Regions from separate parts of the Homo sapiens genome. Here region 2 is linked to region 1. Evidence: fine-mapped expression QTL. A gene starts in region 1. The other region holds a variant in brackets. All regions are shown on one strand. Distances are between the middles of the regions.

Region 1 (8,321 bases):
TCTGATGGTGCAAGTAGGCACATTTTTGGGAGCCGCTATGTAACCCACCCTGGGGAAACTGAGGCAGGGCAAGGTGAAGCAGCTTCCCCAGGCCACACAGTTCTCTTTTAACCCCAAGTCGGCCTGGGTCAGAGGATGGTGATGGGGTCAAAGTTGGGGGCGGCCCCCTTTGTTCATCACTGAAAGGACAGGGGTCCCCATATCACGGCCTCTTTCTAGAATAGACTCTGACGAGGTAGCTTCAACCAGAAAGGGGTGTGCAGTCTGCCGGTGGGAGACCAGCGTGTCCCGGGTGCAGTGTGGACAGGGCGTTGGCTGAGTGAAGCCTTGGCTGGCAGGGGCCAGGTCATCAGCAGGCTGCCTCTGTGTTTCGGGGGTCCTGGCACTGGGCATGGCGCCACCCAACTTGGGGCACCCAGGAGGGGCCCTACTCATCTGGGCTTCCAGTCTCCCGGGCTGACCCAACAGACAGAGGAGGAACTGCCACTCTGGGCTTGACACATAATTGCTTTTTTTTTTTTTTTTTTTGAGACGGAGTCTCTGTCGCCCAGGCTGGAGTGCAGTGGCGCGATCTCAGCTCACTGCAAGCTCCGCCTCCCAGGTTCACGCCATTCTCCTGCCTCAGCCTCCTGAGTAGCTGGGACTACAGGCGCCCGCCACCACGCCCGGCTAATTTTTTGTATCTTTAGTAAAGATGGAGTTTCACTGTGTTAGCCAGGATGGTCTTGATCTTCTGACCTCGTGATCCGCCCGCCTCGGCCTCCCAAAGTGCTGGGATTACAGGTTGAGCCGCCGCGCCCGGCCTCGATGCATAATTTCCTTTCCGGTGGCTATTCAGGGAGGGGCGTGGGGGTTGGGGGGAGGATATTCCACAACTTCTTTGTAATAAGCAGCTTTAGGACAGAACATTCAGGCCAGGCTCGGTGGCTCACGCCTGTAATCCCAGCAATTTGGGAGGCCAAGGCGGGTGGATCACTTGAAGTCAGGAGTTCGAGACCAGCCTGGCCAACAGGGTGAAGCCCTGTCCTTCCTAAAAATACAAAAATTAGCCGGGCGAGGTGACGGGCACCTGTAATCGCAGCTACTTGGGTGGCTGAGGCAGGAGAATCGCTTGAACCCAGGAAGTGGAGTTTGCAGTGAGCCGAGATCGCGCCACTTGTACTCCAGCTCTGGGCAACAGAGTGAGACTCCGTCTCAAAAAAAAAAAAAGGCCGGGTGCGGTGGCTCATGCCTGTAATCCCAGCACTTTGGGAGGCCGTGGCAGGCGGATCACGAGGTCAGGAGATCGAGACCATCCTGGCCAACATGGTGAAACCCCATCTCTACTAAAAACACAAAAATTAGCTAGGCATGATGGCAGGCGCCTGTAGTCCCAGCTACTTAGGAGGCTGAGGCAGGAGAATGGTGTGAACCCGGGAGGTGGAGCTTGCAGTGAGCCGAGATCACGCCACTGCACTCCAGCCTGAGTGACAGAGCGAGACTCCGTCTCAAGAAAAAAAAAAAAAAAAAAAAAAGAACATTCATCTTTTCTCAGGTTCTGGGTTCTCCATCCCCAACAGAAATAACCTGGAAAATCCCTGCGGCAACACGTGTGAAGAAGTGCAGCTTTCTGAGTCACAATCTATTTGTAGGAATTTATCCCAAGGTGAGGGGGACCAGATACCTGTACAAAGATCTGTGGAAACAAGATCGTCTATCACAGTGATATATGCTAGTGAGACACCAGGAGAAACCAAAATATCCCAAAGCAGGTGACAGATCCATGACACGGAGTCCAGCGCAGACCATCAGGGTGTGGAGACGGACTTTTGGCTATTGATGAGTGTGAAGTCACGGGCCGCCTGCAGAACGCAGTATGTGACGTGAATCCCTTAAAATATGTATTTAGGCTGGGCACGGTGGCTCATACCTGTGATCTCAACATTTTGGGAGGCCGAGCTGGGAGGGTTGTTTGAGCCCAGGAGTTTGAGACCAGCTTGAGCAACATAGCGAGATCCCATCTCTACATAAAAGTTTCAAAATTAGCCAGGTGTGATGGCACGTACCTGTAGTCTCAGCTACTCAGGAGGCTGAGGGAGGAGGATTGCTGGAGTCTAGGAGGTCGAGGCTACAGTGACTCGCGTTTATACCAGTGCATTCTAGCTTGGGCAATAGAGCAAGATCCTGTCTCAAAAAAAACTTTTTAAAAATACATTTCAATGTGGAGGAGAAGGCGATCAGAAGGATGTCTGACAAGAAGGTGAGAGAGGTTACCTCTACACAGTTGGCTTATGGGGTCTTCTTTTTGTTTTTATTTTTCATAATTTTCCAAATTTTGCACACCGGACACCTAGTGTTGTGTTGTTTTTCTCTCTCTCTCTTTTTTTTTTGAAACAAAGTCTTGCTTTGTCACCCAGGCTGGAGTGCAGTGGCATAATCTCGGCTCACTGCAACCTCCGCCTCCCGGGTTCAAGTGATTCTCCTGCTTCAGCCTCCCGAGTAGCTGGGACTATAGGCACCAGCCACCACGCCCAGCTAATTTTTTTATTTTTAATAGAGACGGGGTTTGACCATACTGGCCAGGCCGGTCTTGAACTCCTGACCTTGTGATCTGTCTGCCTCAGCCTCCCAAAGTGCTGGGATTACAGGCATGAGCCACCACGCCCAGCCGTGTTATTTCTTAAGGCTTAAAAAAATTCTTTGAGGCTGGGTGTGGTGGCTCACGCCTGTACTCCCAGCACTTTGAGAGGCTGAGGCGGGTGTATCATGAGGTCAAGAGTTTGATACCAGCCTGGCCAAGAAGGTGAAACCCCATCTCTATTAAAAATACAAAAATTAGCTGGACACAATGATGGGTACCTATAATCCCCACTACTCAGGCGGCTGAGGCAGAAGAATGACTTGAACCCCGGAGGTGGAGGTTGCAGTGAGCCCAGATTGCACCATTACACTCCAGCCTGGGCGACAGAGCGAGACTCCATCTAAAAAAAAAAAAAAATTCTTTGCACTGGTGTGGGACGATGGTGACGAATCCCTCAGCCATCTGTGGGGCGCTGCTGAGGGCGTGGGGGGCATTTCTGCACGGTGAAGCAGAGCTGGTGGGAGGCTGCCCGAGGGAAGCTGGTGCTGGGAGGGTTTGCAGAGAGGAAAAGGGCAGTTTATGGAAAAGGCCTCTGGGCTCTGTCTGGAGCCGTCATGCCGGCCTTCACGGCATCCTTCCGCACTTAGAGTCCTTTCCATCTCCTGGTGGCTGGCACAGGGCCAGGGCTGCACTCACAGCTGGCCAGGGTAGGGCAGGGCGCCCGTCCTCAGGGCCACTGACTGTAGGGCTAACCTAGGGGCCTGGTTCACCCCTCTCACCTGGGGCTTCGCTGATAAGCCTGGTTCACCTCCTCACCTGGTGGCCTCGTTCACCCCCTCACCTGGCGCCTTGCCTGATAGCCTGGTTCACCCCTCTCACCTGGGGCCTCTCCTGGTGGCCTGGTTCCCCTTCCTCACCTCGTGGCGCTGGTTCACCCCTCTCACCTGGGGCCTTAACTGGTGGCCTGGTTCACCTCTTCACCTGGCGCCTTGCAGAGTAGCCGGGTTTACTCCTCTCACCTGGGGAGGCACGAACTGGCCCGGGCTGACTGACCTCCCTCACCTGTTTGGCTTTAGGCTCTGGGGCCCCCCTGCCCGGGTGTTTCTGGGAGGCTGGAGGGTCCCACGTGAGCTCCACCGCGGGCAGCTGGAGGGAGTGGGGCAGGACGCTGAGCGCCGGGAGGGGTGTGGCCCTCCTGTCCTGCCCGCGGCCCCACACCGGCCCCAGTCCCGCCCGCCTCGGTCCCTGCCCCGCGCGCCGACGTCACCGGGACCTCCCGATCCTCCCGGCCCAGGCCGAGCTGCCCACGCTGCTGCCCGGGGCTCGGTGCCCGGCGCGGCCTCTGCCGGCTCCGGCGGGCGCGGGACTGCGAGGTAGGGGGGCGCGCGGGGAAGACTCGGGGGCGCAGGGACCGAGAGGGACCTCCGTGCCGGGGCGGGTGGGTAGGGGCAGCTCCGGGTCCAGCCCGGCCCGCGCACCAAGTCCCGAGGGCGCCCGGGCGGCGGCGGCTACGGGCGCGCGGGGACCGCGGAGACGCGAAGGGCGCACTTGGCGAGGGTTTGGTGCAGCGCCGCGCCGGGGTCCGCACAGCCCCGGCAGGTCCTGCAGAGGGAAGGCCGGGCCAGGGAAGGGCCACGCGCCCCCTCCCCGCCATCCTCTCCCAGGCCAGGGCGACCTGCGCGCTTCCCGATGGGAGCAAACTGGGGACGGGTCGGGAATCCAGGGCCAAGCGCCCGAAAGAAGGCGTTTCCGGGCTGGGGCGAGCCAGGTGGGTGCGGGACGTCCCCGGGGAACCTCCAGGGCGCCGAGAATCTCGTCGTGCCCAGGGCTCCCCGCAGCCTGTGTATGAGCCGGGGAGGGAGAAGGCTTCCTCCCCCAGGAGACTGAGGGAGAAGGCTGTGGATATGATCCCTGCAGGGATGTAAGACAGGTCTCAAAACCAGAAAAGCAAGGGAGGGGTGACAGAGAAATGGCAAACTTTACAAAGGACAGGGGAGGGCAGGGACCTGGGTCCTTTCTGCCCCCATCACGGGAGGGAAACACTTGGCAGAGGAGTTTGGGGTTCGCAGGTGAGGAGAGAGAACAGGAAGCCAAGAGTCTGGCCCGGAGGCCACTACCCCTGCGGTCTAAGCCCCCGGTTTTCCCTCCTAGCGAATGGAAACTGAGAGGTGAGAAACCCCCAAAACCATCCGTCCGTCTGGTTCTGCCTGAAGGTCTCCGCTGTCAGCTAATGAATAGCTCGATGCAGCTGCTGGGAGGTTTTGCAAAGCGCATTCAGAATAGCGAGAATCAGAGCATGGTTTCTTGCCCAAAGGCCAGGCATCTGCGTGGTCAGATGGGGGAGCATGAGTGCCCGGAGCTGTGCGGTTTAGGGCAGCCTGACCTTGGATACCTGGTTACTGGGCCAGTCTGGCGGCCCTTGTTGCTTAGAGCGGCAGAACCTCCCTGGGGGGGGGATGCGGACGTGCTCTTTTCCAGTCTTTGGACAAAAAAAGGCAAGGGGAGGAGGAAGGAGAAGCGTCTGAGTTTACCCATGGTATTAATAGCAGCAGGGCTGGAACTCGGGTGCTCTGGGAGAGGAGACGTCCTACCCCCTGTCCCCGTCAGAACATCCCTGCTCCAGGAGCAGCTGGGGTTCCAGTGTGAAGCGTGGCTTTGAAACCAGGCCCCGCTGGCCCCCAGCTGTGTCGCCAGGGCCAAGTCACTTAACGTCTGAGCCTCAGTTTCCCCACCTGAAACACCGCAGTGGCACCTGCGGCTCCGTGTGTGGCTTGGAGGACGCAGGCATGAGACCTGTTGGCTGCTGTCATGACTGCAGTTAGCAGAGGAGGGGGACACACTGTGACAGGGTCCAAAGGACAGCGAGAAACCTCCATCTGGGGGTCTCCTTTTTGGAGCATGGATGGGTTGGTGAGTGCCAGAGGGTGCTGCGAAGCTGACCCCCACTAAGGCGGCTCCCTCCCCGTGGGTACCCCCAGGGCTCACATGCAGCTCTGGCTCTATGTGAGGAGTGGTCTTGTGCAGAAATGACCTGGCAGGATGGAAGGACTCAGCTGGCAGCTGACAGTGGGGACCGGGGTTTTCCTGAATGACCCACGAAGACGAATGTGGCCACAAGGCTTCTTGAGAGGAAATAGTATGTGGGCAGACGTCATGCCCTGGATGCCCGAGAGCTGTACCCGTGTTAAGGGATGGAGGGAGCTAAGCGTTCTCATTCCTAGCTTGGAGCCTGTCACACCATTCTCCAGTCTGCACTAGGAGGTGGCTGTGTTTTTGTGTGTGTGTGAGAGAGAGAGAGAGACAGACAGACAGACAGACAGGGTCTTGCTCTGTCTTCCAGGCTGGAATGCAGTGATGCAATCATAGCTCACCACAGCCTCGACCTCCAGGGCGAAAGCAATCCTCCCATCTCAGCCTCCCTAGTAGCTGGGACCACAGGCATGCACAACCATGCCCAGCTAATTTTTAAAATGTTTTGTAGAGACGGGGTTTTGCCATATTTCCCCAGGCTGGTCTCAAACTCCTGGACTCAAGCGATTGTCCCGGGAGGTGGCTATTTTTAGAGCTTGCCTCTCACATCCTGTTGATCTTCCAGCCGGGCTAGTCTGGAGCTGGCGTGGCCACTCCTTCCCGGGCGGCTCAGGTTGGCTGAAGGTGGTGTTGTGTCTCTGGCTGGGTTTCCGATGTAGATGCTCTTGAGTTACCCACGTGCCCGCCACTGCTTGCGGGTGTGCAAACGGCCTCTGTGGTCGTGGCTCCTCTGTGCGTGTGCTCTGGTCCCCTGCAAAACTTGTCGCTGTGGCCCTTCCTGTTGCTCCCATTCGGTCCTCCCTGAATAACTTAGATGGGCCTGAGGTTGGCAGTTTGGGCCCAAGTCACACCTGGAACCAATGTGGTAGGGCTTGTGAACTTTTGGTAAAAAGAAGGCATTTCTCAGCCGGGTGTGGTGGCTCACCTCTGAAATCCCAGTGCTTTGGGAGGCCGAGGCAGGCAGACCACTTGAGGCCAGGAGTTCGATACTAGCCTGGCCAACATGGTGAAACCCTGTCTCTACTAAAGATAACAAAATTAGCCTGGCATGGTGGCATGCGTCTGTAGTCCCAGCTACTAGGGAGGCTGAGGCATGAGAATCGCTTGAACCCTGGAGGAGAAGGAGGTTGCAGTGAGCTGAGATTGTGCCACTGCACTCCAGCCTGGGTGACAGAGGCAAAAAAAAAAAAAAAAAAAGCATTTCTCATTTCCTGATGCTTTGCCTGGAGTAGGAGGGTTTGCTGGCAGGGAAGCCTCTGACCAGGGTTTTCGGGTGGTCAGGTGGGTGTGGGTGCTGGCAGGAAAGCCCCCTCAAGAGTAGGGGAAGGTCCGTGTGTGAGGACTGGAGTCAGGGGTCTCTGTGCTGGGAGTCAAGATCCAGGTGAGCTGTGTAACCCTGGGCAAGTGGCTTTCCCTCTCTGAGCCTCAGTCTCCTGGGTTATGACATGGGTGAATCTCAGGATGGCTTTGGAGGTCGGACAAGGTGTTGCATCAGAAAGTGATTTTGGGCCGGGCGCGGTGGCTCACACATATAATCCCAGCACTTCGGGAGGCCGAGGCGGGTGGATCACAAGGTCAGGAGTCTGAGAACAGCTTGGCCAATATGGTGAAACCTCGTTTCTACTAAAAATACAAAAATAAGCTGGGTGTGGTCGTGAGCGCCTGCAGTCCCAGCTGTTCGGGAGGCTCAGGCAGTGAACCCAGGAGGCGGAGGTTGCAGTGAGCCGAGATTGCGCCACTGCACTCTAACCTGGGTGACAGAGCAAGGCTCCGTCTCAAAAAAAAAAAAAAAAAATAAGTGATTTTGGGGCTTTGCAGGGTGGCAGGCACCGGAAGGGGAATGTTGATCAGGGCTGGTCCAGGGTGCCCGCAGGTATTGCTATCTGTTTTACCATGTCATTCTCTGGAAAGCTGGGACACAGACCATCCTGGGCATCTGGAAGGCCCTGGGCTGCTCCAGAGAAATAATTGATAGGCCCCTGTGGACAGAACAAATAATTCTGAGCTGGCTGCGGCGCTAGGGGAATGATTTGGAGGTAACTGGGAGGTTATGGTGCTTGCCCCTTGTGGGCGGCAGTGCTGGTGAGTGGAAGGTCTGGGAGCGAGAAGCCGGTGAGCAGGTCATGTCACCGGTACCCAGAAACTACAAAAATAAGCTGGTGAGTCTCCTGTGGCGTCGGGTGCTCCGAGGCCGGCTAAGTGCCTCCTCCTCCTACTTGGGCCAGCCAGGCTCCTGGAGGAAGACAGGTGGGACCACACCCATCTCACAGGGAGGACACAGTGGGGTTGAAAGAGGACCGAGCTTGGCCGGGCGTGGTGGCTCACGCCTGTAATCCCAACACTCTGGGAGGCCGAGGCGGGCGGATCATGAGGTCAGGAGATCGAGACCATCCTGGCTAACACGTGAAACCCCATCTCTACTAAAAATACAAAAAAAAATTAGCCGGGTGTGGTGGCGGGCGCCTTTAGTCCCAGCTATTCGGGAGGCTGAGGCAGGAGAATCGCTTTAACCCGGGAAGCGGAGGTTGCAGTGAGCCGAGATTGTGCCACTGCACTCCAGCCTGGGTGATAGAGTGAGGCTCCATCTCAAAAAATAAAAAATAAATAAAGAGGACCAAGCTCATGCCAGAGCCCTCGGAGTTGTTGAGGGCATTCCAGCTTCAGGGGTTTCCTGGGCGCCTCTTCCGTAGCGAGGTCCCCAGGAGTCCCCGAGGGGACTCTGAGAGGTTGC
Region 2 (8,321 bases), 22 kb after region 1:
GTTTTGGCAGGGCCACGTGGTCTCAGAAGGCTCCGTGGAGGGTGCTTCCTGGCTGCCTCCAGCTTCTGGAAGTTGCTGGCAATGCCCAGCCCTCTGTGGCTTCCAGATGCACAACTCCAACCTCAGCCTTTGACTTCCCGTGAGCTTTACGCCATGTGCCTCTGCGTCTCTTCTAAGACTCCAGTCACTGGGTCTCCTTCATGACCTCATCTTAACTGGATTACATCTGCACAGATCCTGTTTCCAAACAATGGCAGGTTCCGGGGGTTAGGACTTCCACCTGTCTTTTTGGGGGACATAGCCTGATCCACAACAATCATCACTGTCAATCATCATCACCTCATTAGCATCATTGTCAATCAATTACCCAGCTGCTCAGGAGGCCGAGGCAGGAAGATTGCTTGAGCCCAGGAGGTGGAGACTGCAGCGTGAGCTGTGATTGTACTCCAGCCTGGGTGACAGAATGGGATGTTATCTCAAAAACAAACACAGGGCCAGCTGTGGTGGGTCATGCCTGTAATCCCAGCACTTTGGGAGACCGAGGCAGACGGATCACGAGGGTAGGAGTTTGAGACCAGCTTGACTAACATGGTGAAATCTCCTTTCTACTAAAAATACAAAAATTAGCTGGGTGTGATGGCACGTGCCTGTAATCCCTGCTACTCAGGAAGCTGAGGCAGGAGAATGGCTTGAACCTGGGAGGCGGAGGTTACAGTGAACTGAGATAGATAGCGCCACTACACTGCAGCCTGGGCAACAAAGCAACACTCCATCTCAAAAAAAAAAAACAAAAAAACACACACACACAGAACAACCTCCTTGTCAATCTGTTCCTTTTAATGGTAGAACTCCTTGGAAAACACTTCTCCGGTGTGCCTCTGTGCCGCAACCCCTCTTCTCTACACTAACTCTGAGACCCTCTCCGGGTTTCCTGGGCCCGTGGTGGCTGCTCTGCCCCCTTCCCTCCCTGGGCTTCTGGTTTCCCGGCTTTGATGCCATCGTGCCCAGGTTCAGCCCCTGGGCCTCTCCTGTATCTGTCCACACTCATGCTCCGGGGAACCATGCTAACAAGTTACACAACTTGCTAGCTTGGATGACCCACTGTGATCTCACAGTGCTGTGGGTCAGGAGCGCCCCCACTGCCCAGGCTAAAGTCAAGGGTTGGCTCCAGGAAACTCCAGGGAGAATCCATTTCCTGCCCTTTCCAGCTTCTAGAGGCACCCGTATCCTTGGCTAATGGTCCTTCCTCCGAGCCAGCCCTGCAGTGCCCTCAGGCCTCACGTTCTCACCCAGACCCCCTGCTGCCTCTAACGAGGGCTTTTTTTTTTTTTTTTTTTTTTTGAGATGGAGTCTGGCTCTGTTGCCCAGGCTAGAGGGCAGTGGCGTGATGTCAGCTCATTGCCACCTCTACCTCCTGGGTTCAAGCAATTCTCCCGTCTCAGACTCCTGAGTAGTTGGGATTACAGGCACGCACCACCAGGCCCGGCTCATTTTGTATTTTTAGTAGAGATGGGGTTTTGTCATGTTGGCCAGGCTGGTCTCGAACTCCTGACCTCAGGTGATCTGCCCATCTTGGCCTCCCGAGTTGCTGGCATCACAGGTGTGAGCCACTGTGCCCGGCCTTACCGAGGGTTCTTGTGATGGCATCAGGCTCAGCTGGCTGCTGCAGAAAAACGCCTCCATCCCAAGATCTTTAATCATCTGCAGCCCCTTTGGCTGTGGGGACTCACAGGTCCCAGGGCTGAGACGTGGACTCTCTGGGGCTGTCGCTCAGCTGCTGAGGTGGCTTCTCCTTCCTGGGGCTGCAAGCGCCAGTCTTGTTGGCCCGGCTGCCTCTCCAGCGTCCCCACTGGGCTGTCCATGGCCTTTGACTTACCATGTCCTGATCTCCAAATGGCCCTGGCTGTCACTCCACATCATGCAGTACTGTGTGCCCTCAGGTCACACCAAACGCTGGTGGCCCACACCTGACTTGGGAAGGGGCAGGGCCCAGGCAGAGGAAGAGGATGACGGGGTGCCAGCCTGAGCCTGGAAGATGGGGGTCCCCGGCTGCCTCCTGACCCCATCCTCTGGCCCTCTCCCCGCAGACGGCATCCTGTCCTTCTTGAAGAACAACAAGCCAGGGGACGCGCTGTGTGTGCTGGGCCTCACACTGTCTGACCTGTACCCCCATGAGGCCTGGAGCTTCACCTTCAGCAAGTTCCTTCCAGGGCACGGTGAGCCGGGGCCCCAGCAGCTGTGCGTGGGGGGTAGCCTGGCATGGGGCTGTGGCCTCCGTGGCTGCAGGGCACCCTCTTTGCTTTTGCTTCAAGCACCCTCCTGGTGGAAGTCAACACCTGTGCATGGGAATAGATGGCCCCTTCCAGCTCCTCCTGAGGAATGGCATAGGGGCTGTTCCTCAGCTGTGGCGTCTGCCCCAGGGCCCAACTTCATGTGGGCAGGACAGGGCCTCCCAGGACTGGTATGTCTTTGGGCCATGGCCAGCTTGCATGAGAGCATGAGGTGGGTTTGACGGTGGGCCCCCCAGAGCCAAGGCTGACCCCTGAGAGTGCCCTTCTCTCCATCTCTCTCCAGAAGTGGGCGTCTGCAGCTTCGCCCGGTTCTCAGGGGAATTCCCGAAGTCGGGGCCCAGCGCCCCTGATCTGGCCCTGGTAGAGGCAGCAGCAGACGGCCCCGAGGCCCCCCTGCAGGACAGGGGCTGGGCCCTGTGCTTCAGTGCCCTGGGGATGGTTCAGTGCTGCAAGGTGGGTGGGGGCTCTGGGGCTGGTAAGAGGGGACAGGAGGGTGCTGTCTGAGCCCTTGGTGCCTCGGTCTGTTACACTGCCCCATCCTCACAGTGAAGTGGATGGACCCCTAACTCTATGGAATGAGGAAAGCAAGGCTACACAGCTATGAAGCAGCAGGGGAGGGATTAGAGCCCCAAGCCCCTATCCTGTGTGGCCTCCCACCCTGACTCACCTTTCCCCTGGGGCCCTGAAAGTGGCCTGTGCCGCCTGGGGCAGGGGGAGGGCGCCTGGACCACCTCCCGGCCATCTGGCCTCACCCAGGTCCTCATTTTGGTCCTGCTGGGGCTGCCTGGGGATCTGCCGGATGCAGGGGCAAGGCAGTGAGGCAAGGTGCTTGGTGGCCTTCCCCCCAGGTCACGTGCCACGAGCTCTGCCACCTTCTGGGCCTGGGGAACTGCCGCTGGCTCCGCTGCCTCATGCAGGGTGCGCTCAGCCTGGACGAGGCCCTGCGGCGGCCCCTGGACCTCTGTCCCATCTGCCTGAGGAAGCTGCAGCATGTCCTGGGTTTCAGGCTCATCGAGAGGTACCAGGTGAGTGGCTGAGTTGCGCTGCCCGGCTGCTGGGACCTGCGCTCCGGAGGCCCGCGAGCGCCGCCTGGAGGCTACGCAGGGCATGGGGACCGCACACAGGCTTTGTCAACTGCCGGGTTCCAGGCAGTGCAGAGCCCTGGGACCTGCGCTGGGGTTGAGCTCCATCCGGATCTCACTGGCAGTAGATCGAGTCCTGCCAGGGCCCGCGTGTGGTGGCTGTGACTGGGAGGTTGCAGCGGGGTCGAGTGGGGACGAGGGCTTTTCTCCCTCTGTCAGGAAGAGCTGGCATTGGAGCCCAGCCGGCGGGTGGCACGGTCTTCCCAGGGTAACTTTCTCTTTGCTTTCCCGTCACCCACACTTGGGTCACTGCTGCTCAGAGGAGGCACAGGCCCCTTGCGAGGAGGTGGGAGCTGACACAACAAGGCTTGTTGGAGGTGGCCTCCATTCCTAACTCCCTCTGTCGCCTGGGTGGGGTTGCCGAGCAAAGGGCTCGTCCGTATTCATGGACATTTGTTTGCAAGCTCAAAAGCTTTACTCTGAGTTCTGAGTGCAAAGGCAGGTGGTGGTAATTTTTCTTCAAACCCAGCTTTGGACTACAACCAGTTATAAGGTGCTCACTG[C/T]GTACAGGCACCAGAGCAGTCAATGAAACCGCGCTGGAAAGCCCCTGCATCCTCCTCCCGCCCGTTGAGGCAAGTGGGGGTGTGGTTCCCGGACCGAGCCTGTCAGAATCCCCTGCAGGGCCTAGCTGGGCCCTCCTTCCTTCTGGGGTAGAGTGAGGAGCTGTATCTTGCAGGGTCCTGGGTGACACTGAACTAGAGGCCGTGGCATTTCTAGCTCACAGTGCTGGAATCTCTCTGCAGGGATCCTCTCTGAAGACTCTGGCAGTCAAGGGAAGGTGAAGGGGGCACAGAGGAAACAGCTTTTCCAAGTGTAAGGAGAAGAGCCTGTGACTTGGGGGGAACCCAGGCGCAGCCATGGCTGAGGGTAGGAGCATCTCCCGAGGGTACAGGTGGCGTGATGGCTGGTCAGCACCTGGTGATGCCTTGTAAAGGTTGCTGCTGCCAGCTGTGCCCCGTCAAGGGGCAGCTCTTAGTACCTTCCTGAGGCTGTGTAACAGGCACAGGGGCAGCTTGGTCTGCAGAAAGGGTTGAGAGCTCTCATTTGATGCCTTCACCTGGGGTCTTGTGCAACCATCTGACATGAACTTTTAGAAAGTGTATGCCCCTCCCTACACGTGCTGACCTGGCATAGCCTGGATCCACCTGGATCTGAGCTGGAGGGTGTAGCTCCTCCTCCTGCCCAGAGCTCTCTCCGTTCCGTGAGCACCATCTCCTGAGGCTGTGGAGGGAAGAGGGCCAGGGCAAAGGCACTCCAGGGTGGCCTGGCCCTCCTGGCTGTTGTAGGGAGGGCAGTGGTGTGGATGTGAGGTCACCTGCTGTCCCAGGGCTTGGGGAGGTGCTGGAGAGCTGACCAAGGGCCTGGCCAGAAAAGGTCACTGCTGTCCACTGACAGCAATCAGTGAAATGCCTCTTGAAGAAAGCCTGACTTGTTGTGGTCTCTGCCACTTCCTGTGGTGTAAACAGTCTCACGATGGCTGATGTGAGCTCCCAATGTGATGTCAGTGAGTGCTGAGTTGGGAACAGATGTGCAGTGGGACCTTGTTAAACTGTGTGTCCCCTGTACAGATGCAGGAGAGGAGACTAACCTTGAGAGCAGAGGTGAGAGTGAAATGGAGAAAACATTTAGGAAGTGAGTTTCAAGTACTGCCTTTGCTTTACATTTTTTTCCCCCTGGTGGTCTCACTATGTTGCCCAGGCTGGTCTTGAACTCCTGGTTTCAAGTGATCCTCCTGCCTCTGCCTCCCTGTGCTGGGATTACAAGCGTGAGCCACCATGCCCACACCTTTGCTTTAAAATTTTAAATTTTATTTAATTATACGCTTTCTGGGTGGGTGCCGTGGCTCACACCTGTAATCCCAGCACTTTGGGAGGCGGAGGTGGGTGGGTCATCTGAGGTCAGGAGTTTGAGACCAGCCTGGCTAACATGGTGAAACCCCGTCTCCACTAAAAAATGTAAAAATTAGCCAGGCATGCTGGCAGGAACCTGTAAAATCCCTGCTACTCAGGAGGCCAACGCAGGAGAATTGCTTGAACCTGGGAGGGGGAGGTTGCAGTGAGCTGAGATCGCAGCACTGCACTCCAGCCTGGCCAACAGAGTGAGCCTCTGTCTTAAAAAAATCGAAAAATGTTAAGTGTTCTAACTTTGGATGACAAGGAGCTTGCGAAGTTCCTGAATGGTGAGCTCTTGGGGGTGGGTACCTCTGACTCTGGCACAGCCTGGACATGAGTCCTCAAAGGGTGCTGGTCACAAGAGCCCTCACACCACCAGCCTGACTCCCGCCCCTGGGTAACTGAGGACGGTGGGGTCCCCTTAGGTAAGGAGGTCTCCTGGCAGTTCCCTGGCTAGACAAGGGCTGGCACGGAGCAAACTCAGCCTGTGTTTCTCCCTCTTAGAGACTCTACACCTGGACTCAGGCGGTGGTGGGGACGTGGCCCAGCCAGGAGGCGGGGGAGCCGTCAGTGTGGGAGGACACCCCGCCTGCCAGCGCCGACTCGGGCATGTGCTGTGAGAGTGACTCGGAGCCCGGCACCAGTGTGTCGGAGCCCCTCACCCCTGATGCCGGGAGTCACACCTTCGCCTCGGGGCCAGAGGAAGGGCTGAGCTACCTGGCAGCCTCAGAGGCTCCGCTGCCACCTGGGGGCCCTGCGGAGGCCATCAAGGAGCATGAACGGTGGCTGGCCATGTGCATCCAGGCCCTGCAGCGGGAAGTGGCAGAGGAGGACCTGGTGCAGGTGGACAGAGCCGTGGACGCCCTCGACCGCTGGGAGATGTTCACGGGCCAGCTCCCGGCCACCAGGCAGGACCCACCCAGCAGCAGGGACAGCGTGGGGCTGCGCAAGGTGCTGGGGGACAAGTTCTCCTCCCTGAGGAGGAAGCTGAGTGCCCGAAAACTCGCCAGAGCAGAGTCGGCCCCCCGTCCCTGGGATGGGGAAGAGAGTTAGTACAGCAGGGGCTGCCCTACGTCTCCTTCCCTAAGGATGCTGGCCAGCACTGTCCAGTAGCTGAGGCCACTACTGACCTGCCAGGGATAAAGAGGAAGGGTCTGCCTGGGTGGTGGCTCAGGCCTGTCATCCCATCACTTTGAGAGGCCAGGAGTTTGAGACCAGACTGGGCAACATGGTGAGACTCTGCCTCTACAAAAGAAAAATTAAAAAATTAGCTGGATGAAGTGGTTCATGCCTGTGTTCCCAGCTATTCAGGAGGCTGAGGTGGGAGGATTGCTTGAGCCTAGGAGGTCGAGGCTGCAGTGGGATGTGATCATACCACTGTACTGCAGTCTGGGCCACACAGAAAGACTGTCTCCAGAAAAAAAAAAGTTCTTTGGAGAAGCCACAGACCACCTGTCTTCAGGCGCCTCCTTCAACTCCTGAGTCCCAGCCAGCCGCTCCCAGGGGCCTGCACACATGGAGAGGCCTCCCTGATCCTGGGTGCTTCTCGTGGAGTACAAGCCGGACTGTGCTGAGGTTGGGACAGAGCCCCCTCCCCTGCAGAGGCAGAAGGAAGCAGCGTGCGTCCTGTCTCCTTCCAGGCTGTGGGCCTGCCCTTCAGTTATTTATAGCTGGAGCTGGAGAGGCTGGCTCAGATGAGGAGTGACCCCGGGGGCACACAGGCTCCACACTGCCACCCAGCTTCCAAGGCTGAGTCTCCTCCCTAACGGGGAAGTGACGGGGTTTTGTCTCTATCATCTCAGGCGTCAACCACATGCACACACACACTGTCACGTTCTGTGGCGCTAACAGCATCCTGATCCTGACGGACTTCACCGGGGCTCTCCAGGCATCTCTTCTGACAAACACTGCAGGAGGTGAGGGTGTCTGACGTGCACTGAGGGCAGAGGCCCCCTTATTCCTGAGGCGGCTACAGCTCACCGTGGGGAAGATCAACTGTGGTGATGTTTTTGGGACAGTTTCTTGGCAAAGGTGGCCGCGCTGTCAGTACCAAGTAGCTGGAGGTGGTGATCAGATGATCTGTCTTTCCTTTTTTTTTCGGTCTAGTTCTGTCAGTTGCTGAGAGAGGGGTATTATTGCCATGGCTGGGCGTTTGATCTGTCTCCCTTTAGTTTTGCCGGATTTTGCTTCCTGCACTTTGAAGCTCCTTTACGTCCCTGCACATTTGATTGTTGTGTCTTCCTGAGGAATTGACCCTTTTATTGTCACACGTACCCCCTCAGCCTGTGGTGGAGGGTCTCTGGGAGAGAGACTTCCGGTTCTGACAGCGGAATCCCTTCGGAGTGACGAGGGCGGGGTCACAGCTCGCGCACCCTCATCTGGAGAGAGGCAAGAACAGGGCAGCTTGGACCTTTTGTGGGTGGGTGGCTCACACGGTTATGGAGGGCTTCTAAGAAAAACAAAATACAAAACTAAAACTAGAAGGGCTATGCAGGTGAGGTGGGCTGAGGCTTCCTTGTGAATCTGACATTGGTGGAGGCCGACTGAAGGCTCCCGGTCCTGGTCCCACTCCGTGTTGACTTCAGAGAAGCAAAGATGCAGCTCAGAAGTAGCATTAGGATCTTCGTCCCGTTCTCTTTTGCGTAGCTTCAAAAAGGCGTAACAGTGACCTGGGAGGGGAGATGAAGAGCTAGGCCTTTCAGAAAGTGACCAATGGAAGGTGCCGGCAGAGCACCCTGCAGTAACAGAAGGTGAAAGCCGGAGCCTGGTGGCTGTTGCTGCAAACAACCACCCAAAACTTAGTGGCTTAAAATCACCACAGTCTAGCTCATGAATCTGTAACTTGGGCAGAGCTCGGTGGAGACGGTTTGCCCCTGTGGCTCGACTGGAGTGTTCGTTCACACGGCTGCCAAGTGGAATTTGGCTGGGAATCTCAGGCCTTGGTTCCTGCCCACGTGAGACTCTCCATGGAGGAGGGGCATCTTCTTAGGAAGGCA

Evidence for each region.
Region 2: its variant is fine-mapped to the expression of AMZ1 in whole blood (TOPMed, PIP 0.92).

Annotation. Positions count from the first base shown.
Region 1 is chr7:2,684,364-2,692,684 of GRCh38, forward strand. It overlaps AMZ1 (archaelysin family metallopeptidase 1), which reads left to right and starts at 3,839. Exons shown (of 7, transcript NM_001384743.1): 1 at 3,839-3,933. RefSeq lists an enhancer at 4,538-4,807.
Region 2 is chr7:2,706,501-2,714,821 of GRCh38, forward strand. It overlaps AMZ1 (archaelysin family metallopeptidase 1), which reads left to right. Exons shown (of 7, transcript NM_001384743.1): 4 at 2,088-2,216; 5 at 2,575-2,744; 6 at 3,140-3,316; 7 at 5,830-8,321. The coding sequence ends at 6,378. Among named protein-coding and RNA genes, the nearest start is that of AMZ1, 22 kb to the left of the region's middle. RefSeq lists enhancers at 3,044-3,143, 3,063-3,758, 3,904-4,123, 4,134-4,183, 4,824-4,983 and silencers at 3,304-3,463, 6,642-6,841. The variant C/T (reference allele first, on the strand shown) is at 3,937.